Regions from separate parts of the Homo sapiens genome. Here all the other regions are linked to region 1. The links come from fine-mapping of genetic effects on gene expression. A gene starts in region 1. Each other region holds a variant in brackets. All regions are shown on one strand. Distances are from middle to middle. Region 1 holds the start of KMT5A (lysine methyltransferase 5A). Region 2 overlaps SBNO1 (strawberry notch homolog 1). Region 3 overlaps KMT5A (lysine methyltransferase 5A).

Region 1 (10,530 bases):
AGCCCCGGGCCGCCCGGGGCGAGGCACGAAGGGAAGGAGGCGCAGGCGGCGCGTCCTCCGCAGCCCTCCCGCCCGCTCGCAGCCGCCCACCGTCCGGCGCCCGGCCCGGGGAGGGGGCTGGTAGGGGCGGCGCCGCCAGGCCGCTCCGGAGGGCGGGCGGGCGGGCGCGGCGAATCCCGGCTCGGGCGCGCCCCCTCTCGCGCGGCCTCAGCCACTCGCGGAGGAAGGGGTGGGAAACACCGTCATGACAGCCCAGGCTCCCGCCCGCCCTCCCGCCAGCCCGCCCGGCTCCTTTTTCCGCTGGCTCTGCGGATATTTTGGGAACCCGGTCTGTGCCAGACGAAATCAGCAGCGGTGAACGCGCCAGGCCAGGCCCTCGGGTGTGCCCGGCGCTGTGCCCACCGAGAGTTTCACAGGCATTGAATCCTCCCCGCACGCCCACGGGGGCAGGTCCTGTCGGCATCCCAGCTTACAATGGTGACACTGTGACTCAAGGGATGTGCAGGGGTTTGTCCCGGGCCACAGAACTAGGAAGTGATGGGGCCAGGTGTCAAACCCAGAAGGGCTGTACTTGACCGGTAGGAAGCCCTGGGGAGACAGAGCCAGGGGTTATAATGATCGGTTTCCTGGGCGAGTCTCTTGCCGTTATCTCACTGAAACCTCACAGCAGCCCTGCAAAGGTAGACACCATTATTATCTCTTTTCAACAGATGGAGAAAGTGAGGAGCTTGGCCAAGTTCTCAGAACTAGATGGGTTTTCAGCCCCAGCCAACTGACCCCAGGGCCTTGCCCTCCCAGCCACTACCCTTCCTGGTTACAGATGAGGAAATGGAGTTTGGGAGAAGCAAATGGTCTTGCAGAAGGGTTTAACATGTCACCTTGTTCTCCTATCCCGCCGTGAGAAAATGCCCCCATAGGCAGACGAGGTTCCCGTCACTCTGGTGGCTGTTTCAGCATAGCTCACTGCCCTGCACCACTACTCTGTGGCCATTAAGGCTTGAGGGCCCACAGCCAGATTCACTGTATTTGTGCAAAGTCATAGATGCAAACAAGACACTTCAAGGCATCCAGCTCCTGCAGCCTGGCCCATGGCCTGGGAGTCAGGGGCTGGACTTATTTCCCTGCATCTGCCCAGAGGTGTTTTGTGACCATCGCCAAGTCACTTCCCCAGTCTGGGCCTCAGTGTCCTCATGGGTAAAAACCAAGAACCTTGAATTCCATAATCCACCAGAGCACCTTCCAACATCCACAGATAAGCAAATGGCTGTTTGTAGCCATCCTCCCACCTAGCCTCCCTCGACTCCCATTGGAACGGATAAGACTGAGTAGGATTAGGTGGTGACAGGTCACTGCTCAGACAATCCCTCCCAAATCAGCTCATGCTTTAGCATCCTTCAAGGCAGGGTCTCCAGCCCAACCACTAACTCCAGTGGGCTAGGTACTCTGCCTATGCCCTCTGCAGAGCCTACTACAGTTGAATATCCAAAAGATTACCCAGAGGGTGAAAGAGGATTCGAAAGTGACACTCTGATAACCAGGTTGAGCCATTTGAAAGCGTCTTCTATTTCTGCAAGGCAGAGAAGTTTTGCAGCTTAACTGCCATGAGAATCATGGTTTTGGAGCAGGAAGCACCCACATAGATCATCTTATCCATTTCACATTCTAGTATACCGAGCCACACCCCACGCCCCACTCATGGTCATAGCTTTCTCTGCATTTGAGCCCCCAATTGCAGGGGACACATTACAAGTCTAGCACCTATTCCTCTCAATTCTGCAGCTCCAGTACCTAGAAGATGTAAATACAGATCATTCAATGTAAGTTTCAAAACAGTCCTTTCTCCGCAAGTTTATACGTATATAACAAATACACCAGCTGGGCGCAGTGGCTCACACCTGTAATCCCAGCACCTTGGGAGGCAGAGGAGGGCAAATCACCTGAAATCAGGAGTTTGAGACCAGCCTGGCCAACATGGCGAAACCCCGTCTCTACTAAAAATACAAAAATTAGCTTGGCGTGGTTGCGCATGCCTGTAATCCCAGCTACTTGGGAGGCTGAGGCAGGAGAGTCACTTGAACCCAGGGGGGTGGAGTTTGCAGTGAGCCAAGATTGTGCCACTGCACTCTATCCTGGGTGACAGAGTGAGACTCTGTCTCCCAAAAAAAAAGAAAAGTCTGTATTTTTGGAGACCCCCCCACCAGGTGCTAAGGGATAATGAACTGAAGATGGCAAAATGAGGAGGGCAACCAACCAAGAGACCATTCAACAATGGCAGTAGAAATAGTGAAAGGTAGGTGGACTGACCCCTGAGACTAATATATTGGGGTTGTAAATATTTGCATGATTATAAAACTTCAAAATGAGTGAGGTGTTGCCTGGCATCTGACCAGTTTGTTTCTGTGACCCAGCAGGGCTCTCAAAGTGAATTGCAAGTTCAAAGCCCAATTTTCTAGAAGAAAAAGACTGTTCATTTGAAGTGCTGTAAATGATTTGGTATTTACAATTCTAAATATTGGCCAGGCGTGGTGGCTTTTGCCTGTAATCCCAGCACTCTGGGAGGCCGAGGTGGGCAGATAACCTGAGGTCAGGAGTTCAAGACTAGCCTGGCCAACATGGCGAAACCCCGTCTCTACTAAAAATACAAAAATTAGCTGGGTGTGGTGACAGGTGCCTGTAATCCCAGCTACTTGGGAAGCTGAGGCACAAGAATCACTTGAACACAGGAGAGGGAGGGTGAAGCGGGCTGAAATCACTCCACTGTACTCCAGCCTGGGTGACAGAGAGAGACTCTGTCTCAAAAAAAAAAAAAAAAAAAAAAATCTAAATCTAAATATCCAATTTAATAGCTTGCAAGGGCAGTAAAGCCTAAGAAACAGGTAACTACTAATTTGGGGGTCAAGTGAGACAGTGAGAATCAATAACTAATAATTACATAGGTGATTTGTAAGCTGCCATGGGAGGAGCTGACAAACATTATCTTCGCTTTGGGTAAGTAAGGGAGGTTGGGTGGCACAAGCAAAGACCCAGCCAAGCTAGAGTCTGGACAGCAAGTTTGGACTTCACGCTTCCTCTTCCAAAAAATGAGAATAACAATTTGTAAAGATCAATTGAGTTAATAAAGTGCCTGGCCCTCAGTGGTAATTATTATTATTTTGTTATTGTTCTTGTTTGTTTTTTTGAGATGGAGTCTTGCTCTGTTGCCCATGCTGGAGTGCGGTGACGTAATCTCGGCTCACTGCAAGCTCCACCTCCCAGGTTCAGGCAATTCTCCCTGCCTCAGCCTCCCAAGTAGCTGGGATTACAGGCATGCGCTGCCATGCCCGGCTAATTTTGTATTTTTAGTAGAGACGGGATTTCTCCATGTTGGTCAGACTGGTCTCGAACTCCCGACCTCAGGTGATCTGCCCGCCTTGGCCTCCCAAAGTGCTAGGATTACAGGTGTGAGCCACCATGCCTGGCCATAATTATTATTTAGTCATATTTTAAGTATTTCAATGATAGATGGTTAGTTTTCTTCATATATTAATTAATGCACTACTTTTAAAACAAGTAGTTTAAATGATTTTGCTGTGATGAGAAAAATGAACCCAGGAAGCATAGTTTTATTAAAATTTGTCAGATAAATTAGTCAGATAATGTTAAATATACTTTTAGATGCTTAACACTTTTCAAAGGAAAAATATTAGTATTAATTTTCTCCAAGAGTTGAGTGATGAAGCTCTTTAACCTGAAGTTTACTATGCCTCATTTTTTCATCAGGCTCTGGGTAAGTCTTATCCCAAAAGAACCTCTAGGGATGCTAGGAGAATAGATGATGCAACTGACTTCAGGGCCTGAAAACAAAGGGACCCAATAGATATTTACTGAATGAATCATTATTTTATTCATTATTATTGCTATAGGGAGCATACTGCACTAAAGCAAATTCCTACTAACACTTGAAGCCTTGAAATTTTGAGAAAAATATAATACCAAAACTTTTTTTTTTTTTTAATACTAATTCTACTCAACTTTCACGCTCAAGTTTTTGGCCCTTTGGCGTGAAGGAGACGCAGTGGCTGGAAATGACCAAGCGGTTGGAGATCTCTTTGCCGCATACCTGGGAGGCACTGTCCTGACAGCCAACTAAGTATGCAGAGGACTTCAGACAGGGCATCGCCTCCCAGGGCTGTACAAGCCCACCCAAGCCATCTACCGGGGGGCGAAGTCCTGACCAGATGCGGGGCGAACGACCGCGCCCGCGAGATGCCAGGAACCCGTTTTACCCCAAAGTGGGCCAGCGGGGCCCGGCCTTCGCTCCAGCGGCGCAGAGCTGACTCAGGACGTGGGGAGGGAGGAAAGGCGCCTGCTGCGGTGTCCACCCTGACGCGCACCCCAATATGCAGGTTATCGATCTGCGCCTTCGCCTCGGGATCACCTCCTTTCCCAAAGAGAGAGGGCCCCAAAGTGGGCGAAGCCTCACTCCTGCCCCCGCCCCACTTCTATCAATAACACCTATTCCCTGGAGGTGCCCTGCGCTTTAGTTTCCAAAGAGCTCTGACATATGGATCTGCTGCCGTGGAGAGGCAGGCCCGCAGGTGTTCACTTCATAGAAGGGAAACAGAAGCACGGCAGTGGGAAGGGTTTCTGGGGGCATCTGGAGCCGCAAGGGGGGGCCGGCGGGTTCCGCAGCAGCACCCCCTCTCCCCCCACGCGGGTCCCCAAGCTTGCCCCGAGCCACCCGAGGAGGACGCCTCCCCGCAGCCGCTGCCTCCACCCCGGCAACCCCTCCAGCACGACCCCCGACCCAGCCGCTCCGGTGCCGGCCACTTGGGCAAATACCTCTAGCCATGGCTCCACTCTGTCACCGCCTGGGATCTCCCGGGAAACCCAGCTTTCGAAAAAAGTTGCAACAACTCAGCCAACTGCTCCGCCGGGCTCCAGCTGCTCGCCCCGATTGGCGCCGCCTCCCGCCTCTCCGCAGGCTGCCCGTAGTGATAGGCCAACTCGGAGAAAGGCCCCGCCCTTCTCCCGCCTCTTCGGCGGCGGGGCGTGTCCAGCCGCCGCAATAACTGCAAACGCTTTCCCGACAGGTCCCGGCGGAGGAGGTGGGAGGGGTGTTTAAATTTGACCGTCGCCAGACGTTGAATGGCTGCGATGGAAGACACCCGAGCTGCCATTGGGAGGCCCCAGATTCCTCCCCCTCCCGCTGCTGAAGCTCCGCCTCCGGAGCGTGAGTAGCCCGGCTGGAGCCCTGGGCTCCGAGCCGACCGGATCTGGGACTTCCGGTTCTCTGTGGGCTTGACCGGAACCCGACCTTTGACCCCTCGATCTTCCCTTAAGAGCTGGGAAACCTGAGTCTCCCAGCAGTTTAGCAACTCCAGCACACCGACCTCTCCAGCAGTTTGATCCATTCATTCTCAGGTTTGAAAGGTTTTGGCCGGGCGCGGTGGCTCATGCCTGTAATCCCAGCACTTTGGGAGGCTGAGGCGGGCGGATCACCTGAGGTCCGTGGTTCGAGACCAGCCTGACCAATATAGAGAAACCCAGTCTCTACTAAAAATACAAAATTAGCCGGGCGTGGTATCGCATGCATGTAATCCCAGCTACTCGGGAGGCTGAGGCCGGAGAATAGCATGTAATCCCAGCTACTCGGGAGGCAGAGGTTACGGTGAGCCGAGATCGCGCCATTGCACTCCAGCCTGGGCAACAAGAGCGAAACACTGTCTCAAAAAAAAAAAAAAAAAAAAAGGTTTATTGAATATTCCAGTATTCAAAACCCGGCCGGGCGCGGTGGCTCACGCCTGTAATCTCAGCACTTTGGGAGGCCGAGGCGGGTGGATTACGAGGTCAGGAGATCGAGACCATCCTGGCTAACACGGTGAAACCCCGTCTCTACTAAAAATACAAAAAAAATGAGCCGGGCGTGGTGGCGGGCGCCTGTAGTCCCAGCTACCTGGGAGGCCGAGGCAGGACAATGGCGTGAACCCGGGAGACAGAGCTTGCAGTGAGCCGAGATCACGCCGCTGCACTCCAGCCTGGGCGACAGAACGAGACTCCGTCTCAAAAAAAGAAAAAAAAAAAAACCCACAGACACAACTCCTACCAACTAACTGGGTCAGTAGGGAAGGTCCTTCCAGGACCGCAAAGATCCTAATGCTTCACACCCACCCATTTTACAGATGGGGCAATAGAGGAAGCGGGTCACTTACGCGCTGCCCAAGGTCACCCAGCAATGTAATTGCAGGGCCTGGGTCAGTCTCTCCACTGTTCAAACACTAAATGGCTACCTTATCCCGAGGGAAGCAAGTATTCGCTGTTCCCCTCTGAGAGAGGGGGCTCAGTCAGTATGTTCCCAGAGAATCAGGTGTCCTGGAGTGTCTGCTTTGGACTCAGGGAAGGCGTCCAGTTACTACTGCTCTTCCCTGGGGCCCCTCCCAGGGGTGTGGGACGAGGTCACTAATCCATCCTGTCTCTTTGGTAATTGAAAAGGTTTTGGAGACCCAACCATTGCCCAAAGACTCTTCCAAAGCACCAGGAAAATAGGAAAGGAAAATAAAATGATATATGTGAAAGCACTGGGAAAGGTAGAAAAGGACACTTTTGTCACAAAGTCACTGTGTCACTTGGCACATCAGTTCAGCTCTCTGGCCTTCCATTTCCCTACCTGTCAAATGAAGGAGCTGGTGCCGTAATCTCCAACATGCCTTACAGCTTCCATAAATATGTGGAAGTGTGGCAGTGTGCAGTGGCTCTCACCTGTAATCCCAGCACTCTGGGAGGCCGAGGCAGGTGGATCACGAGGTCAGGAATTCAAGACCAGCCTGACCAACATGGTGAAAACCCCGTTTCTACTAAAAATACAAAAATTAGCCAGGCGTGGTGGTGCGTGCCTGTAATCTCACTACTCAGGAGGCTGAGGCGGAGAAGTGCTTGAACCCGGGAGGCAGAGGTTGCAGTGAGCCAAGATCGTCCCACTGCAATCCAGCCTGGGCACCAGAGCGAGACTCTGTCTCAAAACAAACAAACAAACAAACAAAAAATATATATAGAGAGAGAGGTGTTTGCTTTCTCCAAAATTGATTATTTCAACATTTATTGAGCTCTATGCCTGCCGCTGTTTTGGATCCCCCAAGGATCCGAAGGGAAAGTAGACACAGCTCCTTCCCTGCATTCTTTTAGGGAAGAAACAAGGCATTATTTAAAAGATAATTTTAAGGCTGGGTGTGGTGACTCACACCTGTAATCCCAGCACTTTGGGAGGCTGAGGTGGGCGGATCACCAGGTCAGAAGATCGAGACCATCCTGGCTAACACGGTGAAACCCCATCTCTACTAAAAATACAAAAAAAAAAAAATTAGCCGGGCGTGGTGGCAGGCACCTGGAGTCCCAGCTACTCGGGAGGCTGAGGCAGAGCTTGCAGTGAGCCGAGATCACGCCACTGCACTCCAGCCTAGGCGACAAAGAGAGACTCCATCTCAAAAAAAAAAAAAGAGAAAAAAGAAAAAAAAGATCATTTTGTTTATTTATTTTTATTTTTCTTGAGACGGAGTCTCTCTCTGTCTCCCTAGGCTGGAGTGCAGTGGTTTGATCTCGGCTCACTGCAACATCTGCCTCCTGGGCTCAAGCAATTCTCCTGCCTCAGCATTCTGAGTAGCTGGAATTATAGGCGCCCACTACCATGGCTGGCTAATTTTTGTATTTTTAGTAGAGATGGGGTTTCACCATGTTGGCCAGGCTGGATTCGAACTCCTAACCTCAATTGATATGACGGCCTCAGCCTCCCAAAGTGCTGGGATTACAGGCGTGACCCACTGCGCTCAGCCCAATTTTTGTATTTTTAATAGAGATAGTGTTTCTCCATGTTGGCCAGTCTGGTCTCAAACTCCTGGCATCATGTGATCCAGCTGCCTCAGCCTTCCAAAGTGCTAGGATTACAGGCATGAGCCCACCACCCCTAGCCTAAAAGATTATTTTTATTTTATTTATTTTTTAAGACAGGGTCGCATTCTGTCATCCAGGCTAGAGTGCAGGGGCACGTTCTCGACTCACTGCAACCTCCACCTCCTGGGCTCAAGCAATTCTCCTGCCTCAGCCTCCCAAGTAGTTGGGATTACAAGAGTGTGCCATCATGCCCACCTATTTTTTTTTTTTTGAGACGGAGTCTCGCTCTGTCACCCAGGCTGGAGTGCAATGGCGTGATCTCGGCTCACTGCAACCTCTGCCTCCTAGGTTCAAGCAATTCTCCTGCCTCAGCCTCCCGAGTAGCTGGGATTATAGGCATGCGCCAAAACACCCAGCTATTTCTTTTTTGTATTTTTAGTAGAGACGGGGTTCCACCATGCTCCCCAGGCTAGTCTTGAACTCCTGGCCTCAAGTGATCCACCCGCCTCAGCCTCCCAAAGCGCTTGCCTTACAGGCGTGAGCCACCGCGCCCGGGCATATTTTTGTATTTTTGGTAGAGAAGGGGTTTCACCACGTTGGCCAGGCTGGTCTTGAATTCCTGACCTCAAATGATCTACCTGCCTTGGCCTCCCGAAGTGTTGGGACTACAGGCGTGAGCCACACGCCCATCCAAAAGATTATTTAATTTAATTAATTTATTTATTTTATTTATTTATTTTTTGAGACAGAGTTTCACTCTTGTTGCCCAGGCTGGAGTGCAATGGCACAATCTCGGCTCACCGCAACCTCCACCTCCCAGGTTCAAGCGATTCTCCTGCCTCAACCTCCCGAGTAGCTGGGATTACAGGCATGCGCCACGATACCCAGCTAATTTTGTATTTTTAGTAGAGACAAGGGTTTCTCCATGTTGGTCAGGCTGGTCTCAAACTCCTGACCTCAGGTGATGATCAGTCCACCTCGGCCTCCCAAAGTGCTGGGATTACAGGGGTGAGCCACCGCACCCGGCCTATTTATTTTTTGAGACAGAGTCTTGCTCTATCGCCCAAGCTGGAGTGAAGTGGCAGGATCTTGGCTCACCACAACCTCCGCCTCCCGGGTTCAAGCGATTCTCCTGCCTCAGCCTCCCAGATAGCTGGGATTACAGGCACCCGCCACCACACCCAGCTAATTTTTGTATTTTTAGTAGAGGTGGGGTTTTGCCATGTTGGCCAGGCTGGTCTCAAACTCCTGACCTCAAGTGATCTGCCCACCTTGGCCTTCCAAATTGCTAGGACTACAGGCATGAGCCACTGCTCCCAGCCCAAAAGATCATTATAAATAGTGATTAATGCTATAAGGAAAAAAGGCAGGCCAGGCCTGGTGGCTTATGCTTGTAATCCCAGCACTTTGGGAGTCCGTGGCAGGTGTATCGCTTGATCTCATAAGTTTGAGATCAGCCTGGGTAATATCCACATTTCTACCCTGTTCTGTGATACAGAGCAGCAAACCATAATTCCCCGTTCTCAGTTAATGTTAGGTTCTTCCAATGAGAGCAGATAGAAGCAGTCTGGGAGGCAGGAGGAAGAGAGGGGACTTGTTCTTGCCTGTTTGCTTACTATTCCTAGCATGTTCCCCTCAGTAATAACACTGCCTCTGGCAGTAGTATTTGGTTCAGTCTCCAGGTTCTTTGTACACTCCCAGAGACAGCCTCCTTGTGCTCCCGCGGAGGCACCAACAGCAGACCCCTCCTCAGAGTTTTGAGTCCCAACTACACAGGGCTCTGGGAGGCCCAGCACCAATCTGGTTGTGCCTCTTTCTTTTTTTCTTTCTGTCTTTTTTTTTGAGACAGAGTCTCGCTCTGTCACCCCAGTGGCACAATCTCAGCTCACTGCAACCTCTGCCTTCTGGGTTCAAACGATTCTCCTGCCTCAGCCTCCCACATAGCTGGAATTGCCGGCATGCACCACCACATCAGGCTAATTTTTTGTATTTTTAGTAGAGACAGGGTTTTGCCATGTTGGCCAGGCTGGTCTCGAACTCCTGACCTCAAGTGATCCGCCCACCTCTGCCTCTGAAAGTGCTGGGATTACAGGCATGAATCACAGCGCCTGGCTATGTGCCTCTTTCTTAGAGGGGTGAGAACGAGCTCTCCGGGGCTCTTCCTCCGATTTTGCTAGCTGTGCTAACCCCAACTTGTTTTTATTTTTATCTCCAGCTTTGGAGGTGGTAGCTGCTTCCTCTAGTTGTTATTTACATTGCCTCGGTGTTCCCTTTCTGCCTTCTCAGTCCTCTGTCACCCGTTTAATGAATTTCCTATTTTAACCTCTCTGTTTTCCTAACTGGATGCTGACTTACAGAAGGGCACTAGTAAGACTTATATTTTTACTCCAGTCCAATGGAAAGCCACTAAATGGTTTTAAGCAAAGGGTAGATTCATAGATTGTAAATCTGAATACTAATTTATTGCAAAGAGTACATAAATTATAATTATCGACACTGGGCGTGGTGGCTCATGCCTGTAACCCCAGCACTTTGGGAGGCCCAGGCAGGAATATGACTTGAGGTTGGGAGTTCGAGACCAGCCTGGCCAACATGGCGAAACCCAGTCTCTACGAAAAATACAAAAAAACTACAGGTGGCACACACCTGTAATCCCAGCTACTTGGG
Region 2 (10,530 bases), 58 kb after region 1:
TTGTTGAGTAGAAAACGAGCATTGTGGTAAGTGTTTAAAAACTGGCTGTGGGCCAGGCGCAGCGGATCACGAGGTTAGGAGATCGAGACCATCCTGGCTAACACAGTGAAACTCCGTCTCTACTAAAAGTACAAAAAATCAGCCGGTCGTCATGGTGGGTTCCTGTAGTCCCAGCTACTCAGGAGGCTGAGGCAGGAGAATGGCGTGAACCCTGGAGGCATAGCTTGCAGTGAGCCGACATTGTTCCTCTGCACTCCAGCCTGGGTGACAGAGTGCGACTCCGTCTCAATGGAAGGTTTTGTTAGTAATTACTTTAGCATGTGGGGATGGGATCCGCCTTCCCCATCTAGACAGGATCTTTGTCACCCAGGCTGGAGTGCTGTGGCATATTCATGGCTCACTGCAGCCTCTACCTCAGGGGCTCAAGCAGTTCTGCCTCAGCCTCTTGAGTAGCTGGGACTACAGGCATGCACTACCATGCTTGGCTAATTTTTTGTAGATACGGGCTCTTCTTGTGTTGCTCAGGCTGGTCTCGAACTCCTGGGCTCAAGCAGTCCTCCTGCCTTAGGCTCCCAAAGTGCTAGGATTATGGGTGTGAGCCACTGCACTCAGTGGGATGGTGTTTTAATGAGTAAGTGTATTTTCTTTTTCTTTTTTTTTTTTTTTTTAAGTGTCAAGACCTGGCTTTATTAATTTTATTCCTGAATTCTAGAATGATATAATTTGTATTTAATTTGTGCTTTTTAATATTTTGGCAGGTTTAGTGTTTCAAATGACTTAAAGTATGATGCTGAAAGAGATTTAAGGGATATTGGAGCAAAAAACATTTTGGTTCATTCGTTAAATAAGGTATGAAATCTTTTTATTCAGTTGGTCATTCAATAAATATTGACTCATCTGTGAGATGACAATAATAATAGCTATGTATATAAGGGGACACTTTTTGGAAAACTTTGATGTTACTCCACAGAAAGCATAGTGAGTGCTAGCCACTATTGTTGGTTTGTGGATTCCTATATGCTAAACACTGACAGGCAGTAGCCACTCATCACATGTGGCTATTGAACAGTGTAAGTGACCAGTCCAAATTGAGATGTGCTCTCAAGTGTACAGTGCACACCAGTTGATTCTCTCAATTTTCAGTGTTATTTTTATCTTTCTTTTATAGTTTATATGCCATAAGGGTGCAGTTTAGACAGGTGGCATACCTTGCACTATAGGTCACCAAATCATATGCGATGTAGATAGTTATGGCTTGGGCAGACTGGTTTCAGTATTTGTACAGCTAATGGACTTGAGTTACTCATACCTCTGCTCACATGAAAACAATTCTGTAAGCTGAAAGACAATGTGTGCCAGTGTGTTTTAGAATGTTAAGGTTCAGTTAGCAAATCTTTATTGACTTACTATGCATGCACCAATTGTTGGTGCTATAAGGTTAAAATAGACTGATAGGGTTCCTGGAAGGGCCTCCCTAGTAGCCCTTTGAAAATAAGTAACTGCACCTCTACTTCCCATGTGAGTCCTAAGTTGAATTCAGTGTTGCCCTAAACAGTGGCTTGTTAGGGTGGGTTTTACTGGGTGGATTTGTAGCTATAAAGTACTGTGTCTTGAATGACTGTATACAATTCAGAACTAAAAGGATGTAAGTGGCATCTAGAATTTTTTTTTTAAATTTCAGAGTAGTATTAGAAAGGCACATTAACAATTACTCATAATTCTTATGTATCAGAAATTAATCACAGTGTTTTGCATATAGTAAGTGCACAATAAATGTTTGTAAATTGTGACTTTTTATTCTTATAGGGAAGTTTGTCTGGTTTTTAATGTTTTTTTTTGTGATGATAAAAGTTTTTAAGACTTTGAAAACTGGATTTAAAAAAAAAAAAAAAAGATCTCAGCTCTGTTGCCCAGGCTGAAGTGCAGTGGCACAATCTCGGCTCACTGCAACCTCCATCTCCCAGGCTCAAGCAGTTCTCCCACCTCAGCCCCTGTGGTAGCTGGGACTGCAGACACGCACCACGATGCCTGGCTAATTTTTGTATTTTTTGTAGGGATGGGGTTTCACTATGTTGGCCAGGCTGGTCTTGGAACTCCTGAGCTCAAGCGATCCACCCACCTTGACCTCCCAAAGTGTTGGGATTACAGGTGTGAGCCACTGTGTCCTACCAAAAACTGGATTTTTGTACTATAAAGTTGTGTGTTTGTGTTGTGTACATTTATACAAATAAATTTGCGTCTCTGTACTTTTATGTTTTCTGAAGCCTGTCATGGGCCTAACAAGAGTTCCTGCTTGTGAATGTTTAGTTGGGATGAATGTTGCAGAGAGAAAGGTATACTAATTAACTAAATTCTTTTCTTTTCTTTTTTAGTTTAAATACGGAAAAATTTCTTCCAAACATAATGGGAGTGTGAAAAAGGGTGTTATTTTTGCTACTTACTCTTCACTTATTGGTGAAAGCCAGTCTGGCGGCAAGTATAAAACTAGGTTAAAACAACTTCTGCATTGGTGCGGTGATGACTTCGATGGAGTGGTATCCTTTATGGCAAATATTTTTCTATTTTTTAACGACAAGAAAATTATAAAAGGGTAGACCTTTGGGAAACAGGAATCTTGAGATTAAACGAGTTGCTGGAGTGAAAACTTTAATGATTACCTAGAGTCCAAAGGGATTGGAAAGTTGATTCGGTTTTTTACCTGTCAGATAGGAGACCAATGTTTAATCTCCTGGTTTAGAAAAATGTTAATAGATATGAGGAATACTGAATACTGTATTCCCCTTTTGAGGATTAACATTGCATATTTACATAGCAGAATACCCGAGAAGACTAAGTGAAAGAAAACTGTTAGAACTTAGTGGTCCCAAACTTGTTCACAGTATATCTTTTAACTGTCCTGCATGAGGAACATCACTTTTTGAAATGCTGATTAAGTTGGTTACCAATCATGCTTCTACTTTTACAAGTTACCAGATAACAACTTCTTGCTGCAGTGGGTTCTTTTCTCTGTTTTAATTTAGAGGCAAATTGCTGGTTTAAATTCCAAATTCAGTGAATGTCTTTGAGGCTAGAGAGGGAGGAGGATGTAACTGGGGAAAGGCCCATAGGACTTCCTTTGTATTTGCAGTCATGAAATAGGCAATCAGAAGGCCTCAGGGAAATAAAAGTTAACTCTTCTTGAAAGACTGGAGATTCTTACTTAATACTAATGTGATACATTCCTTAACTCATTCCATTTAGATAGTGTTTGATGAGTGTCATAAAGCCAAAAACTTATGTCCTGTTGGTTCTTCAAAGCCAACCAAGACAGGCTTAGCAGTTTTAGAGCTTCAGAACAAATTGCCAAAAGCCAGAGTTGTTTATGCTAGTGCAACTGGTGAGTATTTATTTATTTAAAAATATATATTGTAGGTTATTTTTTCAACTATAATATATTTCATTTGTGGGATTTTCAGGTGCTTCTGAACCACGCAACATGGCCTATATGAACCGTCTTGGCATATGGGGTGAGGGTACTCCATTTAGAGAATTCAGTGATTTTATTCAAGCAGTAGAACGGAGGTAATGCAGTTTACGGTATATACTCTTCTCAGTAGCAATCTAAGAAGTGTGTTATTCCTAAAGCCCATTCTCTGTATGTTAAAATTCTACTGTATTGGTAATTACTGTATGTTTTAATTTTATTCAGAGGAGTTGGTGCCATGGAAATAGTTGCTATGGATATGAAGCTTAGAGGAATGTACATTGCTCGACAACTGAGCTTTACTGGAGTGACCTTCAAAATTGAGGAAGTTCTTCTTTCTCAGAGCTACGTTAAAATGTATAACAAAGCTGTCAAGCTGGTGAGGAATTTTTCTTAATTCCTAGTGTTTATTTAATGTATCTGATAATGTTTCTGTTAGTTTTGGCGATTGCGATGCCTCCTGCCCATGGGAATGTATTTCTACTATAAAACAACAGATGAAGCCAGGCACGGTGTCTCATGCCTCAGCACTTTGGGAGGCTGAGGCGAGCAGGTCACCTGAGGTCAAGAGTTCAAGACCAGCCTGGCCTACATGTTGAAACCTCATCTCTACTAAAAATACGAAAAAAAATTAGCTGGGCATGGTGGTGTGCGCCTGTAGTGCCAGCTACTTGGGGAGGCTGAGGCAGGAGAATCGCTTGAACCCAGGAGGCGGAGGTTGCTGTGAGCCAAGATGGTGCCAGTGCACTCCAGCTTGGGTAACAGAGGGATACTCCATCGCAAAACAAAAACAAAAACAAAAAACAAAAACAAACAGATGAGTTACCAGATGATAGGCTGTTTAACCAATGTGTTTTTTTTTGTTTTTGTTTTTAATTGAAGCAGGGTCTTACTCTGTCACCCAGACTGGAGTACAGTGGTGTGATCTTGGCTTACTGCAACCTCTACCTCCCAGGTTCAAGGAGTCCTCCAGACTCTGCCTCCTGAGTATCAGGGACTGCAGGCGCATGTCAATGTGCCTGGCTGATTTTTGTATTTTTTGGTAGAGATGAGGTTTTACAGTGTTGCCCAGCCTGATCTGGAACTCCTGGGCTCAAGCAATCCACCTGCCTCAGCCTCCCAAAGTGCTGGGATTACAGGCATCAGCCACTGCGCCTGGCCTAACCAATGTTCTTATATTTCAGATTGTCCATGTTTTCATTTTGTTAAGGTAATTCATAAGTTATAGCCATTTATTTCAGTTGCATAGTTCTTAAAATCACATTATTTTCTAAAATGACTGCATTAGGTAATAAGAAACTTGAGACAACTGTGTGAGTATCCTGAGAAATAGATTCCCAAGTTACTAAAGATGATTTATTAAATTAATATTAAATGGTCTTGCACTTAACATTGTTTTGATTTAATTGGTATTTTTAAATAACTAGACTCAAAGATGAAGTGTCTGAAATGTTGATTATGTATCTTCAGTGGGTCAT[C/T]GCCAGAGAGCGGTTTCAGCAAGCTGCAGATCTGATTGATGCTGAGCAACGAATGAAGAAGTCCATGTGGGGTCAGTTCTGGTCTGCTCACCAGAGGTTCTTCAAATACTTATGCATAGCATCCAAAGTTAAAAGGGTTGTGCAACTAGCTCGAGAGGAAATCAAGAATGGAAAAGTAAGTAGAAGAACTCATTAAGAGATTGTTTGGGGGTTATGTTGTTTAGTCTTTGTGGGTGCTGAGGTTTTCTGCTTGTAAAATCTGGTTTTCCTAAAGGATAGTAAAACTTCTAAAAAATACATTTCTTAAAATTATAAAAGCAATGCCTGCTTAGAGAATTTAGAGAGTTCAGAAAAGTATAACAAAGTAAACATCACTATAATTGGTCATCCATAGCTGGTAGCACTGGTAACATATGGATGTGTATTGCGTTAAGGTTTTTTCTTTTCGGTGAATATTTATCTACTTAAAGCATAAGATACTATAAACTGTACAAGGGCAGGGGCTTCACTCATGCTTACTACTGTCTGTAATCCTATCTCCTGCCTAAATTTTTGACAAATAACCTGTCTCAAATATGTAGAAGAAATAAGTAAAACAAATTTGTGTTTTATAATAATGAGGACATTCTTGTTTGAAATCTTTGTTTAGCTAAATGTTTAAAATATGTCTTGGTAAGAAGCCACAAACATTATTATTCATAATTAACATGTTTTCTTTTTTCTCCAGTGTGTTGTAATTGGTCTGCAGTCTACAGGAGAAGCTAGAACATTAGAAGCTTTGGAAGAGGGCGGGGGAGAATTGAATGATTTTGTTTCAACTGCCAAGTAATGTTTTTGTTCTTTTAATGTTTTTGTTTCTTTTTGAGTTCTTCCTTACCTTAGTTCCAATGTGGGCATTTCCTGGAGACAAAACTTTTGTTTCACCTGCATCATCTTTAAGTTTTCTTGATCTGAGTTTTCTGCTTTTCTGTAACAGTGTATCTATTGGAAAACAATAACAGAAATCTCATAATCCTAAAATGTTAAGCATTTTGCTAATATTACACAGAGTATGTGAACTAACAGAAGGGCTAGACTTTGTTTATCTTGTACATCTTGGAAATCTGTGACAGCTTGGCTTAGATTCAGTTTTAGTGTACTGTATTTGAAATTACCGTTATCCACAGGAACAGTAACTATAGTTTGTCCTAATATAACGAAGTCTACTTTATAAGTTGGCTGAGCATGGTGGCTCACAGCTGTAATCTCAGCACTTTGGGAGGCCAACATGGGCACATCACTTGAGGTCAGTAGTTTGAGACCAGCCTGGCCAAAATGGTGAAACCCCATCTCAACTAAAAATAAAAAAAATTAGTTGGGCATGGTGGCACACGTCCTGTAGTCCCACCTACCTGGGAGGCTGAGGCAGGAGAATCCATTGAACCCGTGAGGTGGAGGTTGCAGTGAGCCAAGATCGCACCACTCCACTCCACTCCCCTCTGGGCGGCAGAGTGAGACCCTGTCTCAAAAAAAAATAAAATAAAATAAAGTCTACTTTAAAAGTTGAAAATAAGCATGAGATCTTCAGAAATAGATTTTAAAATGTTTTAGGCATTGTTTTTAGTTTGCCTAACCTCCACATTCAAACTCTGGTAGTAAACTGAGCAAAATAAACTTGCTGCTCTACTATTTTGTGCCTCGGGATGCATTCAGATGCTCCTTTCAAAAGCAATACATGGGGCTCACGCCTGTAATCCAGGCACTTTGGGAGGCTGAGTCTGGTGGATCACGAGAGCTCAGGAGTTTGAGACCAGCCTGGCCAACACGGTGAAACCTCGTCTCTACTAAAAATACAAAAACTAGCCAGGCGTGGTGGCGGGCACCTGTAATCCCAGCTACTGGAGAGGCTGAGGCAGGAGAATTGCTTGAACCCAGGCGGCGGAGGTTGCAGTGAGCTGAGATGGCACCATTGCACTCCAGCCTGGGTGACAGAGAGACTCGGTCTCAAAAAAAAAAAAAAAAAGAAAAAAGCAAGACATACACCTGCTAATCTATATTTTTCTGTACATAATTGCCTAGAACTACCGTGTCCAGAATGGCAGCCGCTTGTCACATGTGGCTATTGAGCAGTTGAAATGACTGGTCCATATTGAGATGTTATTATATGTGTACTGAGCCAGGTTTCAAAGACTCCTTAAGAGAAAATAACATAAAACATATGTGTTGACATGGTATATTGAGTTAAAATGTATTATTAAAATTAGTTCCACCAGTTTTATTTATTTTTTACTTTTTTAATTTAAGCTACCAGAAAATACAATAATTGTGTATGTGGTTTGGCTTGCATTCTTATTATTTAGTTGGACAGCTTTGGGCTAGAAAATTAAAATTTATTTGAGCTCGTTTATCAGTATTTTGTAAAACTGAACAAAGTATATTTCAATATATTTAATAATACTTTACATATAATTATTTTGTCAACTGAAGCAGTAATTGTCACTGTTTCTCTCCTACAGAGGTGTGTTGCAGTCACTCATTGAAAAACATTTTCCTGCTCCAGACAGGAAAAAACTTTATAGTTTACTAGGAATCGATTTGACAGCTCCAAGTAACAACAGTTCGCCAAGAGATAGTCCTTGTAAAGAAAATAAAATAAAGAAGCGGAAAGGTGAGCACTTTAAAAAAGAAAAAATAGGCCAGGTGCGGTGGCTCACACCTGTAATCCCAGCACTTTGGGAGGCTGAGGTGGGCAGATCACGAGGTCAGGAGATCGAGACCATCCTGGCTAACACGGTGAAACCCCATCTCTACTGAAAATACAAAAAATTAGCCGGGCATCGTGGTGGGCACCTATAGTCCCAGCTACTCGGGAGGCTGAGGCAGGAGAATGTCGTGAACCCAGGAGGCAGAGCTTGCAGTGAGCCGAGATAGCGCTGCTGCACTCCAGCCTGGATGACAGAGCGAGACTCTGTCTCAAAAAAGAAAAAGAAAAAAGAAAATAGTTGACGTTGAAAATACTGTTGAAATTAAAACATAAGCATTTTAAAGTGGCTATATTTTGGGAATGAACTGCCTTCCATGAATTCACAAATGGTTCCAAATTTTCACTGTCACTTGTACAATTTTGAATGCACAAGTTATCCCCGTTTTAAATTAGGAATTGAGCAATTCACTGGTGGTTGGCAGTGTGTTAAGCACTTGGCTATATACATTCTACCATATAACCTGGCAGAGGTCCATACGAAATTAGGTCTTATTTTTCCAATTTTATAGACAGAGATCATTGAAGCACAGAAAGATTTAAAGATTAAAGAGTTTTCCTAGTTTCACAGAGATAGTTAATGATGCATGGGAACTAAAACCTGTGTCTTTGTATTGTCAGACCTGTTCTTTAATATATAGACAGCTGGGTGTTTCAGTAGTTTTCTTTAAAAGAGCCTTTTCTTTTTTTTTCTTTTTTTTTTTTGAGACAGGGTCTCCGTCTCCGTCACCCAGGCTGGAGTGCAGTGGTACCATCTTGGCTCACTGCAACCTCTGCCTCCTGGGTTCAAGGAGCTGGGATTACAGGCATGCACCACCACGCCCTGCTAATTTTTGTATTTTTAGTAGAGATGGGGTTTCACCATGTTGGCCAGGCTGGTCTCAAACTCCTGAGCTTAAGCAATGCACCCACCTAGGCCTCCCAAAGTGCTGGGATTACAGGTGTGAGCCATCTCGCCCAGCCCTGTTTTGGTTTTAGAAGTTGACTTCTCGCCGGGCACAGTGGCTCACGCCTGTAATCCCAGCTTTTTGGGAGTTGAAACAGGCGGATCACCTGAGGTCAGGAGTTCGAGACCAGCCTGGCCAACATGGCGAAACCCCTTCTCTACTAAAAATTAAAAACTTAGCCAGGACTGGCGGCAGGGGCGCCTTATAATCCCAGCTATAAGGGAGGCTGAGGCATTAGAATCACTTGAACTCGGGAGGCAGAGGTTGCAGTGAGCCAAGATTATGCCACTGCACTTTAGCCTGGGAGACAGAGTAGACACTGTCTGGGGAAAAAAAAAAAATATCTGGTCATGGTTGCATGTGCCTGTAGTCCCAGGTACTTGGGAGGCTGAGGTGGGAGGATCACATGAGCCAGGGAAGTCGAGGCTGCAGTGAGCTATGATTGTGCCACTGCACTCCAGCCTGGGCAACAGTGAGGCCCTGTCTCCAAAAATAAAAAGGTTTTATAAATTGATTTTCTATTGATTTTCTAAGTATTCCATGTCTATAAACCTGTAATTATTAGGCCTCTTCTCAAATCTGATACACAGTCAAATTGTGACTATGCCAGAGGTTCTGCTTTTACTCTGTTGTCCTGAATATGTTTTGAAACTTGTGCACTTGAAGGCAGTCTTGACTTAGTACTTTTGTATCCAATTTCTTCTTCAGAATAAATGTTTATAACCTTATTTTTTATGGGAGTCCAAAAGGTTAGTGCTGGTTTGTGAATTCTGTTTGTTTTTTGACTTAACCTAAATACTTTTCCTCTGCACTTTTCATTTGAATTAATTCATGAACTAAATGTGATGTACTGGATCTTAAGAAACATTGAATTTGGGCTGACTCTCTTGTTTGTGGCGGAGGGTAGGTGAAGAAATAACTCGAGAAGCCAAAAAAGCACGAAAAGTAGGTGGCCTTACTGGTAGCAGTTCTGACGACAGTGGAAGTGAATCTGATGCCTCTGATAATGAAGAAAGTGACTATGAGAGCTCTAAAAACATGAGTTCTGGAGATGATGACGATTTCAACCCATTTTTAGATGAGTCTAATGAGGATGATGAAAATGGTAAGTTCAGTATATTAAATATACACGAAAGCATATAATATTTCAGTATATTTGAAAATGGGATATGAAACCTTTTCTTCTGTACAGTACAAATGATCACACAGATTATAATCTTTGCTTGGTGGAAAGCTCCAGGCTTATCTACCTTCTGGAAGTTTGAGCCTCATATATGTGAGAAGATAACCTCAATTTTGTGCAGTTATTTTTAACTTGAAAACATGGATTTGTACCCCATGGTGTATGGATGAACCAATGTAGGTGGTGATAAGTTATCAGTTAACAATATAAAAAATTTCATCCAGGCGCGGTGGCTCATGCCTGTAATCCCAGCAATTTGGGAGGCTAAGGTGGGTGGATCACCTGAGGCTGGGAGTTCGAGATCAGCCTGACCAACGTGGAAAAACCCCATCTCTACTAAAAATACAAAATTAGCCAGGTGTGGTGGCACATACCTGTAATCCCAGCTACTCAGGAGGCTGAGGCAGGAGAATCGCTTGAACCCAGGAGGTGGAGATTGCAGTAAGCTGAGATTGCGCCATTGCACTCCAGCCTGGGCTACAACAGCGAAACATTGTCTCAAAAAAATAAAATTTCAAAGGTTGTTTCCTTTGAAGATTCTGTACTTGTTTTAACAAATGATTTGACATGTATCTTTCCTTAACACTCAGATCCCTGGTTAATTAGAAAAGACCACAAGAAAAACAAAGAGAAAAAAAAGAAGAAAAGTATAGATCCAGATTCTATTCAAAGTGCCTTATTAGCATCAGGTCTTGGATCAAAACGACCTAGTTTTTCAT
Region 3 (10,530 bases), 27 kb before region 1:
GCAGTGGCGCAATCTCGGCTCACTGCAACCTCTGCGTCCCGGGTTCAAGCGATTCTCCTGCCTCAGCTTCCTGAGTAGCTGGGATTACAGGTGTATGCCACCACGCCTGGTTAATTTTTTTTTTTTTTTAGAGATGGGGTCTCACTATGCTGCCCAGGCATGTCTGAGACTCCTGGGATCAAGTGATCCTCATCCTCTTGCCTCAGCTTCCCAAAATCATAGGATTACAGGCGTGAGCCACAATGCCTGGCCTGGACATATTTTTGAGTCAACAGCTGCAAGAGCTACTTAGAAATTTTACGGGGGTTGCTGTGCCCCTTGCTTTGTTCCTTCTGCTTACCCTGAACCCTCTCTCTCTCCACACCAGGTTCTTTTTTCGATCGGGGAAACAGACCTAGATCCAAGGCCACAAGTAAGGCTATGGCTCTGATTCTAGAAGACAACCTTCCAAGATGCCTGGCAAAACCACCTCCCTGTGCCACACAGACACACTAGGCCTGTGTATTTATTTCCCCTTCAAAGCAGACTGAGGAGGGAGGAGACGAGGTTCTCTTGGCATCACTTTCTCCCTGGCTGCAGAACTAGACACCCTTGAAGATTTGGCCTGGGCCAGTGAGACTGAAATCAAGAAAAACAGAAGGGATGTGCAGGGTGGGGGGGTCCACTTCCTGCTCCCATGTCAACCCCCAGGGCCTCCAGCGTGCAGACGCGTGTCCTACTCATCTGCTCCCACGGATGACCCTGGTCTTCAATGGTTAGCAGAAGGGAGAAAAGAAAGCAGGAAAATGTGCTATTGAGATTCCAGTGGTGACTTCACTGATATTTAGTGAATATTTGATTTAGCCAACATGCCTTTCTTTATGTGATTTTGTATTAAAGTAAAATGATTTTTATACTTTCTATAGCTTATCTAGAGTGGTCTCTTAGTTACGATGGTACACATGGTATATGTGTGTATATGTCATATATCTACATTTCATTGTATAATGAATCAATTGCATTCATTCAGTCTAAGCGATGCACGATTATCTGGTGTCACTATGAAGGGAAAGATTGCTGCAAACTAAAATGTTAAGAAGCTATCGATTTTAGGACTCATCCTGATTTCAGAGGTGTTAAGATGTGAACAAAATGCATTTAGGAATCAATGAAACAGAGAGCGGGTGTCTGCACTTCGCAAAGGAACTAATGAGGCTGCCGCAACCATTCCGTGAGCCTGTCTTCTTAGTAAATAACAGTGGCTTACTCAATGTGTTTCGCCTGCTCTGTGGATTATCTCATTTGTTCCTCATAACCTGGGGAGATGGGGACCGGTACCGGTGCACCAGTTTATAGATTTTTTTTTTTTTTTTTTTTGAGACGGAGTCTCTCGCTCTGTCGCACAGTCTGGAGTGCAGTGGCACGATCTCGGCTCACTACAAGCTCTGCTGCCTACGTTCACGCCATTCTCTTGCCTCAGCCTCCTGAGTAGCTGGGACTACAGGCACTTGCCACCACACTCGTCTAATTTTTTTGTATTTTTAGTAGAGACAGGGTTTCGCCGTGTTAGCCAGGATGGTCTCGATCTCCTGACCTCGTGATCCACCCGCCTCAGCCTCCCAAAGTGCTGGTGAGAGGTGACAGCGTGCTGGCAGTCCTCACAGCCCTCGCTCGCTCTCGGCGCCTCCTCTGCCTGGGCTCCCACTTTGGCGGCACTTGAGGAGCCCTTCAGCCCACCGCTGCACTGTGGGAGCCCCTTTCTGGGCTGGCCAAGGCCGGAGCCCGCTCCCTCAGCTTGCAGGGAGGTGTGGAGGGAGAGGCGCGAGCGGGAACCGGGGCTGCGCGGGGCGCTTGCGGGCCAGCTGGAGTTCCGGGTGGGCGTGGGCTTGGTGGGCCCCGCACTCGGAGCAGCTGGCGGGCCCTGCCGGCTCCGGGCAATGAGGGGCTTAGCACCCGGGCCAGCGGCTGCTGAGGGTGTGCTGGGTCCCCCAGCAGTGCCAGCCCACCGGCGCTGCGCTCGATTTCTCGCCGGGCCTTAGCTGCCTTCCCGTGGGGCAGGGCTCGGGACCTGCAGCCCGCCATGCCTGAGCCTCCCACCCCCTCCGTGGGCTCCTGTGCGGCCCAAGCCTCCTCCACGAGCCCCACCCCCTGCTCCATGGTGTCCAGTCCCATCAACGACCCAAGGGTTGAGGAGTGCAGGCACAGGGCACGGGACTGGCAGGCAGCTCCATCTGCAGCCCCGGTGCGGGATCCACTGGGTGAAGCCAGCTGGGCTCCTGAGTCTGCTGGGGACGTGGAGAACCTTTGTGTCTAGCTCAGGGATTGTAAATACACCAATCGGCACTCTGTATCTAGCTCAAGGTTTGTGAACACACCAATCAGCACCCTGTGTCTAGCTCAGGGTTTGTGAATGCACCAATCGACATTCTGTATCTAGCTACTCTGGTGGGGCCTTGGAGAACCTTTGTGTCCACACTCTGTATCTAGCTAATCTGGTGGGGACGTGGAGAACCTTTGTGTCTAGATCAGGGATTGTAAACGCACCAATCAGCGCCCTGTCAAAACAGACCACTTGGCTCTACCAATCAGCAGGATGTGGGTGGGGCCAGATAAGAGAATAAAAGCAGGCTGCCCCAGGCAGCAGTGGCAACCCGCTCGGGTTCCTTTCCGCATTGTGGAAGCTTTGTTCTTTTGTTCTTTGCAATAAATCTTACTACTGCTTACTCTTTGGGTCCACACTGCTTTTATGAGCTGTAATACTCACCCCGAAGGTCTGCAGCTTCACTCCTGAAGCTAGGGAGACCAGGAGCCCACCAGGAGGAACGAGCAACTCCAGACGCGCCGCCTTAAGAGCTGTAACACTCACCACGAAGGTCTGCAGCTTCACTCCTGAGCCAGCGAGATCACGAACCCACCAGAAGGAAGAAACTCCGAACACATCTGAACATCAGAAGGAACAAACTCTGGACACGCCACCTTTAAGAACTGTAACACTCACCGCGAGGGTCCGCGGCTTCATTCTTGAAGTCAGTGAGACCAAGAACCCACCAATTCCGGACACACTGGGATTACAGGCGTGAGCCACCGCACCCGGCTTTTTTTTGGGGGGTGGTGGGGACGGAGTCTTGCTCTATCGCCCAGGCTGGAGTGCAGTGGCACCATCTGGGTTCACTGCAATCTCTGCCTCCCAGATTCAAGCGATGCTCCTGCCTCAGCCTCCCGACTAGCTGGGACTATAGGTATATGCCACCACACTGGGTTAATTTTTGTATTTTTGTAGAGACGGGGTTTCACCATATTGGCCAGGCTGGTCTCGAACTCCTGACCTCATGATCCGCCCTCCTCGGCCTCCCAAAGTGCTGGGATTACAGGCGTGAGTCACCGTGCCCGGCCAGTTTATAGGTTTAGAAACTGAAACTCTGGCTGTGGAGCTAGGAAGCAGCTTGCCCAGGAGGCAAATGCAGGCCTGATTCCAAGGCCCGGGCGCGGAGCTGCCAAGCTTTATGGGTCCAGAGTCACTGGCAAGTCCTAATAATAGTAATAATTTACTGTATGCCTCGCCTGCATCATTCTAAGTACCTTTCCGATGCTGTCTCACATACTTTTGTGGGATGGGTATCACTATTGTCCTTGGGGTCCTCCCAAGGAGGTTAAGGCATAATGGGTGAAAAGTCTTGTCTAAGGTCCTCAGCTAGAAAGTGGTAGAAGCAGGACTTGAGCCCAGATACAAAGTCCACACACAGGCTTCAACCACTCTGCCTTCCAGGAAGAGCTGGTAGTGTTTAAGAGTCTAGTCCAGAACACTGTCTCAACAGCATCATTAGATCAGGGCTCCTAATCCCTAGAACCCTGTGTAACACTGCAACCCTGGCCAGGCATAGTGGTTCAAGCCTGTAATTCCAGCACTTTTGGAGGCCAAGGTGAGAGGATTGCTTGAGCCCAGGAGTTCGAGACCAGCCTAGGCAACATAGTAAGAACCTATCTTTACAAAAAACAAAAAATTAGCCAGGCATGGTGGTGAGCACCTGTAGTCCCAGCTCCTGGGGAGGCTGAGGCGGGAAGATTAATTGAGCCCGGGAGTTTGAGGCTGCAGTGAGCTATGATCACACCACTACACTCCAGCCTGGGTGACAGAGTGAGACCCTGTCTCCAAATATATAAATGCTCCCCTGCCTCCCTGTGGGGATAGATAGGGTAAGAGAACCCACTCAGAAAGAAAGGTTAAGATGGCCTGGGTGGCTGTGGTACCCCAGGAGACTAAAAAAAGTTACGGTGAGAAATGCTTGGACTGCAACTCTTGGTAAAATCTGATGCTGGCAGGTGGGCATTTTGGAAAATAAGTCCTTGGGGTGATTCTCCTAGAGATGGGCCTAGCTTGACAACAGGTAACAGAGCTGTGACGTCAGCTGAGCTCTGGCGGTTCTCACACTGCAGGATTCCAACTACAAACCTAGACCGGGGAGGAACAGGCTCAGAAGTAGGTTTTCGCCGGGTGCAGTGGCTCATGCTTGTAATCCTAGCACTTTGGGAGGCCGAGGTGGGTGGATCACAAGGTCAGGAGTTCGAGACCAGCCTGGCCAAGAAGGTGAAACCCTGTCTCTACTAAAAATACAAAAATTAGCTATTCAGGAGGCCAAGGCAGGGGAATTGCTTGAACCTGGATGGCAGAGGTTGCAGTGAGCTGAGTTCATGCCACTGCACTCCAGCCTGGGCGACAGAATGAGACTCCGTCTCAAAAAAAAAAAAAAAAAAAAAAAGGTTTTCAAGCCAAGTCTCAGAAGGCACAGGAGGTGGTTGCTGTAGCAATCATCTTTTATTTTATTTATTTGAGACAGAGTCTCGCTCTGTCGCCCAGGCCGGAGTGCAGTGGCAGGATCTCAGCTCCTGACCTCATAATCCGCCTGCCTCGCCCTCCCAAAGTGGTGGGATTACAGGGATTACCGTGCCTGGCCAGCAGTCATCTTTTACAATGAACAAATAGGGCTGGGCGCGGTGGCTCACATCTGTAATCCTAGCACTTTGGGAGATGGGCAGATCACGAGGTCAGGAGACCAGCCTGGCCAACATGGTGAAACCTCGTCTCTACTAAAAATACAAAAATTAGCTGGGTGTGGTGATGCACGCCTGTAATCCTAGCTACTCAGGAGGTTGAGGCAGGAGAATCGCTTGAACCCGGGAGGTGGAGGTTTCAGTGAGCTGAGATTGCACCACTGCACTCCAGCCTGGGCGACAGACAGACCAAGACTCCATCTCAAAAAAAAAATAAATAAATAAATAAAAATAAGTCAGGCACAGTGGCTCACGCATGCCTGTAATCACAGCCCTGTGGGAGGGTGAGGCATGAGGATCGCTTGAGGCCAGGGGTTTGAGACTAGCTTGGGCAACATAGTGAGACCCTATCTCTACAAAAAGTAAAATGAACAAATAAATATAGCAACTACATATCAGAACTTGGAGGCACTTATTAGCTATTAGTCCTGAGTACTTGTAAACACTGAATAGAAGCTAGCCAAATTTTTAATTCTAATAATAGCTAATACTGATTACTGAAGGCTATGTGCAAGGCACTGTTCCAAGTGTTGTTTTTTTTTTT[T/A]TTGTATTAACTCATTAAATCCTCACAATCACCCTGTACAAGTATTATTACTGTCTCCATGTTACAGGGAGGGAAACTGACGCACAAGGAGACTACGTACCTGCCCAAGTTACACAGCAGTGGATTGGAAGCAGAGGTTCTGTTCCAGCAGCCACATGTCCCCTCCAAGGTGAAGCTATAATACTGATGCCTGAATCTTTGGGGGAGGAGGCAAGTCAAGTGGGCAGAGATTATCCCTATTTGAGACAAGTTTCAGAGAGGGGAAGTGACTTGACCAATGTCACACGGCTGACAAACACTTAAAACTGATGCTGGAACTGGATCTTTTGCATCTAAGCCAAGGGCTCTACTCACTGTTCCAATCTACCACCAGTGCCCAAGCATGGAGGGGACAGGGATCTGGGCTGGTAATAGGGACTTCCAGCCCAAGACAGGTGCAGTGATGATTCAGAGCCTCCTGAGAATCATCAAGTCTAGTAAATTATAAGTCGCAATGACAATTACATCAGCTAAAGTTTATGATGCTTACTATGTGCCATTGTTCTAAGGCTCAAAATGCATTAACTTTTAAGCTGGGCGTGGTGGCTCATGCCTATAATCCCAGCATTTTGGGAGGCCGAGGCGGGTGGATCATTAAGGTCAGGAGTTTGAGACCAGCCTGGCCAACACGGTGAAACCCTGTCTCTACTGTGGCCGGGTGCAGTGGCTCACGCCTGTAATCCTAGCAGTTTGGGAGGCCAAGGCGGGCAGATCACTTGAGGTCAGGAGTTCGAAACCAGCCTGGTCAACATGGTGAAAGACCGTCTCTACTAAAAATACAAAAAAATTAGCTGGGTGTGGTGGCTGGCGCCTGTAATCCCAGCTACTTGGGAGGCTGAGGCAGAATTGCTTGAACCTGGGAGGTAGAGGTTGCAGTGAGCCCAGATCATGCCACTGCACTCCCACCTGGGCAACAGAGTGAAATTCCATCTCAAAAAAAAAAAAAAAAAAAAAAAAAAAAAAGGCCAGGTGTGGTGGTGCATGCCTGTAATCCCAGCTATTCAGGTAGCCAAGGTACGAGAATTGCTTGAACCAAGGAGGTGGAGGTTGGAGGTTGCAGTGAGCTGAGACTGCCCCACTGAACTCCAGCCTAGGTAACAGAGACTGTCTCAAAAAAAAAAAAAAAAGCATTAACTTTTAATCTTCACATACCCTATGGTCCCCAGTATACAGATGAGGAAACGAAAGAGCTCAGAGTTCTGGGAAACACGCTCAAAATCACGTCAGTAAGCTTTTCTGGTTCCCCAGGAGGATGCTTACCAAAGCTTAGACATGCTGGTGTGACACAGTCAAATTGTAAAAACAGAAAGACACACACGTGGCCTTGCCTGGCAATAAATATTTTAATTTGTTTCATTTTTATGATGACAAATAATTTTCAAGTTTATTTCCTTGTTTAAATACAAAGCTAAACCACAAACAGGTATAATCAAGACATTGTGTCTCACATTTACACTCCCATCGGATCCTCTTCCAATTTGCTGACCACTGACCAGGCTAGCGGGGGGTGGGAGGGAAGACTTTCTTAGGTAGCACCGTCGTGAGGCCCGAGGTGGGGTTGGGGGGGAATCAAAGACGAGGACAGCCTCTCATACCTGTCTCCATTCACATTTACCTGGGACCAGGGTGGGCAGGAGACACCAGGTCATGGCTCCTGAGCCCCGGCCCCCTGGACTGAAGGGACAGTGTGTGAGAATCAGTTCTGTGAAGGGCGGGAGGAAGCAGTCACCTATTCCTCCTGCCTTCACAGTTAAGGTGAAAACCTTAGCCCTATCCTTGATTCCTGGGGGCTGCCGGGCCCTGTGTGCTCCCCTGCACACCTGGGTGCCTTTCTGAGGCTGGCAGCAGCGGCCGGGGTCAGGGGTCCTGGGCTCCTAGGCTCACACCTCAGCTCACAGTTGCGTCCTTGCAGGAGGACACTGGGTGTCTGACAAACACAAGGCCTCGACAGCAGGTCTGGAACTTTCAACCCCAGCAGGATGAGGGGGAATGGGGGTGGATGTCAGGTAAGTAATTTCTGGTCCCACTACAAAACTTTATTTTTGATTAGAGTACCATTCTCAATCTCTTCTACAAAAAGCAAAAAAAAGCAAAAAAAAAAAAAAAAAAAAGCAGCCACTTCACTCACTTCAAGACCTATATACATGTAAAGTTGTTTTCTGTGGTTTTTTTTATTTTTAATTTTTTTAAATTTTTATTATTATTTTTTAAAATAAATTCAGTGTTCACATTTCTATAAAGAATTAACCCAGTTTCAGGAAACCCTGCCCCAGCAGGGCAGGTAAGCAACCCTCTCCCTGCCCACATCTAGTTTGATTTCACGCCCTGATGCTTCAAGGTGCCCAGAAAAGCGGCAGCTTGTGGAAGAGGAAATCTATGCCCGGCCCGTGCTTGGGGCCCGGGGCTCAGTAAGCTTTCGAGAAAGCAGAGGGGAAGACTAGCTTACTGCAAAAACCTTTTTAAAAAATATTCATACACTTCAGTGAGCGCCTGTTGAGACGTTAGGGGAACAAGAGCTTGGAAACATCCCGTCCAGGCCATTGGGAGGCAGCGTCTTCCTCACACCCCGTCCCTGGATGTCGGGGGTGCAGGGGGAAGGTCCCGGCTCTTCCACTGGAGAAAGGAGACTCACCTGGCTTCCTAGTTCATGTTTGACTATTTCCTCTAAAACCTGTGCTGAGTCTTTGACTGCATGCACGGGAAGCACAAACGTTCGGCTTGTATGCAAAAAAAGTACAAAAACAACTAGAATATAAAAGTTTTGGTAATATAAGGCCATCTGTTCAAGTCCACCTTGGAAACCTGTAACAGATATTTAAATACTACAGTGAAAAGGCATCTTAATATACTTTTTAAAAACATCTGAAGTAATCCGCTAAGATTAAGTGTGTAAAAAAAAAATTCAATTCCCTTTGAGGGCACTTTGTCCTTTGAAGAAGGGAAAGTGGGGCGGGGAGGGCACGGGGCCCACCGGTTAATGCTTCAGCCACGGGTGGGCTTCAATGGAAGCCTTGCTGCGGTCCCCATAGTCATACAGGAGCTCCTCCCCAGCCGCGATGTCTCGGGAGGCGATGAGGATGAGGTGAGGTACGCCGTCGATGTCGTGCAGTTTGGTTTGGCAGTTCCCACATTTGCTGTGATTGATCAGTCTTCCTAGGCGATTTGTCTCTCTAGTTGCATCCACGCTGGAGGGGAAGGAGGGCCAGAGAGGATTAAATGGATAAAGAGGCTTTTCAACCTGAAGAGAGTCACACTTGTGCTCAGCTCTGGTGGGATGCTGATTTAAAGCCATGTGTTTTGAAAAGATTCAATTCATAAAGCTATTTTCTTTTTCCTTTTTAGAGGGGGTCTCGCTCCGTAACCCAGGCTGGAGTGCAGTGGCACGATCACGGCTCACTGCAGCCTCCACCTCCCGGGCTCAAGTCATCCTCCTACCTCAGCCTCCCGAGTAGCTTTGACCACAGGTACATGCCACCACATCAGGCTAATTTTTAATTGTTTCTGTAGAGACAAGATCTCCCTATATTGCTCAGGCTGGTCTCCAACCCCTGGGCTCAAGTGATCCTCTGGCCTTGGCCTCCTGAGTTTTTGAGATTACAAGCACGAGCCACCAGGTCTGGCTCAATTTGCAAAGCTTTTTTTTTTTTTTTTTTTTTTTTGAGAGGGAGTCTCGTCGCTCTGTCGCCCAGGCTGGAGTGCAGTGGCACGATCTCAGCTCACTGCAACCTCTGCCTCCCGGGGTAAGGCAATTCTGCCTCAGCCTCCTGAGTCACTGGGATTAGAAGCGTGTGCCACCATGCCAGGCTAATTTTTTTGTATTTTTAGTAGAGATGGGGTTTTGCCATGTTGGTCTGGAGCTCCTGACCTTCATGATCCATCCACCTCGGCCACCCAAAGTGCTGGGATCACAGGCATGAGCTACCACGCCTGGCCCACAAAGCTATTTTTGAGAGCCTGCACAGGCCCTGGGTGGGGGGATGGGGTAGGACCCAAAGGGCTCTTTATGGAGGCACAGGAGGAAATGGTAGAGTTTCACAAAATAAATGGATTAAAAAAATCAACCCCGCCAGGCGCGGTGGCTCACGCCTGTAATCCCAGCACTTTCGGAGGCTGAGGCGGGTGGATTACCTGAGGTCAGGATTTCAAAACCAGCCTGGCCACCATGGTGAAACGCTGTCTGTGCTAAAAATACAAAATTAGCTGGGCGTGGTGGCGCATGCCTGTAATCCCAGTTACTTGGGAGGCTGAGGCAGGAGAATTGCTTAAACTTCGGAAGTGGAAGTTGCAGTGAGCCAAGATCGTGCCACTGCACTCCTGCCTGGACAACAAGAGTGAAACTCCATCTCAAAAAAATAAAATAAAATAAAAAATAAAAAATTCAACTCCACTGGTCCTAGCCAGGCAAGATCAATTAGTGATTTCCAGAGCTGCTCTGGCCAAATGCCCTGAAGGAGAGCCAGGTGAGCTGCTTAACAGGTTTTCATGTGACTAGCCCACTTCTCCCCTTGGATGAGATAACATCCAGGACAGCTCCAATTCCAAAGATTAAAAATGGGAAGCTGGGGCCACAGTGGCTCATGCCTGTAATCCCAGCACTTTGGGAGGCCAAGGTGGGCAGGTCACAAGGTTAGGAGATTGAGACCATCCTGGCTAACACAGTGAAACTCCATCTCTACTAAAAATACAAAAAATTAGCCAGGCATGGTGGCATGTGTGTGTAGTCCCAGCTACTCAGGAGGCTGAGGCAGGAGAATCGCTTGAACCTGGGAGGTGGAGGTTGCAGTAAGCCAAGATTGCACCACTGCACTCCAGCCTGGGTGACAGAACGAGACTCCGTCTCAAAAGAAAAAAAAAAAGGGAAGCTGGGGCCAGGCGCAGTGGCTCACATCTGTAATCCCAGAACTTTGGGAGGCTAAGGC

The links. PIP is the estimated chance that this variant, and not a neighbour inherited with it, causes the effect.
Region 2: its variant is fine-mapped to the expression of KMT5A in whole blood (INTERVAL, PIP above 0.99).
Region 3: its variant is fine-mapped to the expression of KMT5A in whole blood (TOPMed, PIP 0.98).

The regions. Positions count from the first base shown.
Region 1 is chr12:123,378,500-123,389,029 of GRCh38, reverse strand. It overlaps KMT5A (lysine methyltransferase 5A), which reads right to left and starts at 4,898. Exons shown (of 8, transcript NM_020382.7): 1 at 4,822-4,898. The coding sequence starts at 4,831. RefSeq lists silencers at 1-256, 4,608-4,777, 5,705-5,927 and enhancers at 4,268-4,427, 5,268-5,487, 5,010-5,740.
Region 2 is chr12:123,320,738-123,331,267 of GRCh38, reverse strand. It overlaps SBNO1 (strawberry notch homolog 1), which reads left to right. Exons shown (of 32, transcript NM_001167856.3): 8 at 1-26; 9 at 759-849; 10 at 2,373-2,534; 11 at 3,241-3,376; 12 at 3,456-3,561; 13 at 3,689-3,842; 14 at 4,934-5,116; 15 at 5,669-5,766; 16 at 7,437-7,588; 17 at 9,536-9,733; 18 at 10,402-10,530. Among named protein-coding and RNA genes, the nearest start is that of MIR8072, 39 kb to the left of the region's middle. The variant C/T (reference allele first, on the strand shown) is at 4,942.
Region 3 is chr12:123,405,759-123,416,288 of GRCh38, reverse strand. KMT5A (lysine methyltransferase 5A) reads right to left here. Exons shown (of 8, transcript NM_020382.7): 8 at 6,936-8,796. The coding sequence ends at 8,586. It overlaps RILPL2 (Rab interacting lysosomal protein like 2), which reads left to right. Exons shown (of 4, transcript NM_145058.3): 4 at 368-1,250. The coding sequence ends at 398. Among named protein-coding and RNA genes, the nearest start is that of RILPL2, 26 kb to the left of the region's middle. The variant T/A (reference allele first, on the strand shown) is at 5,573.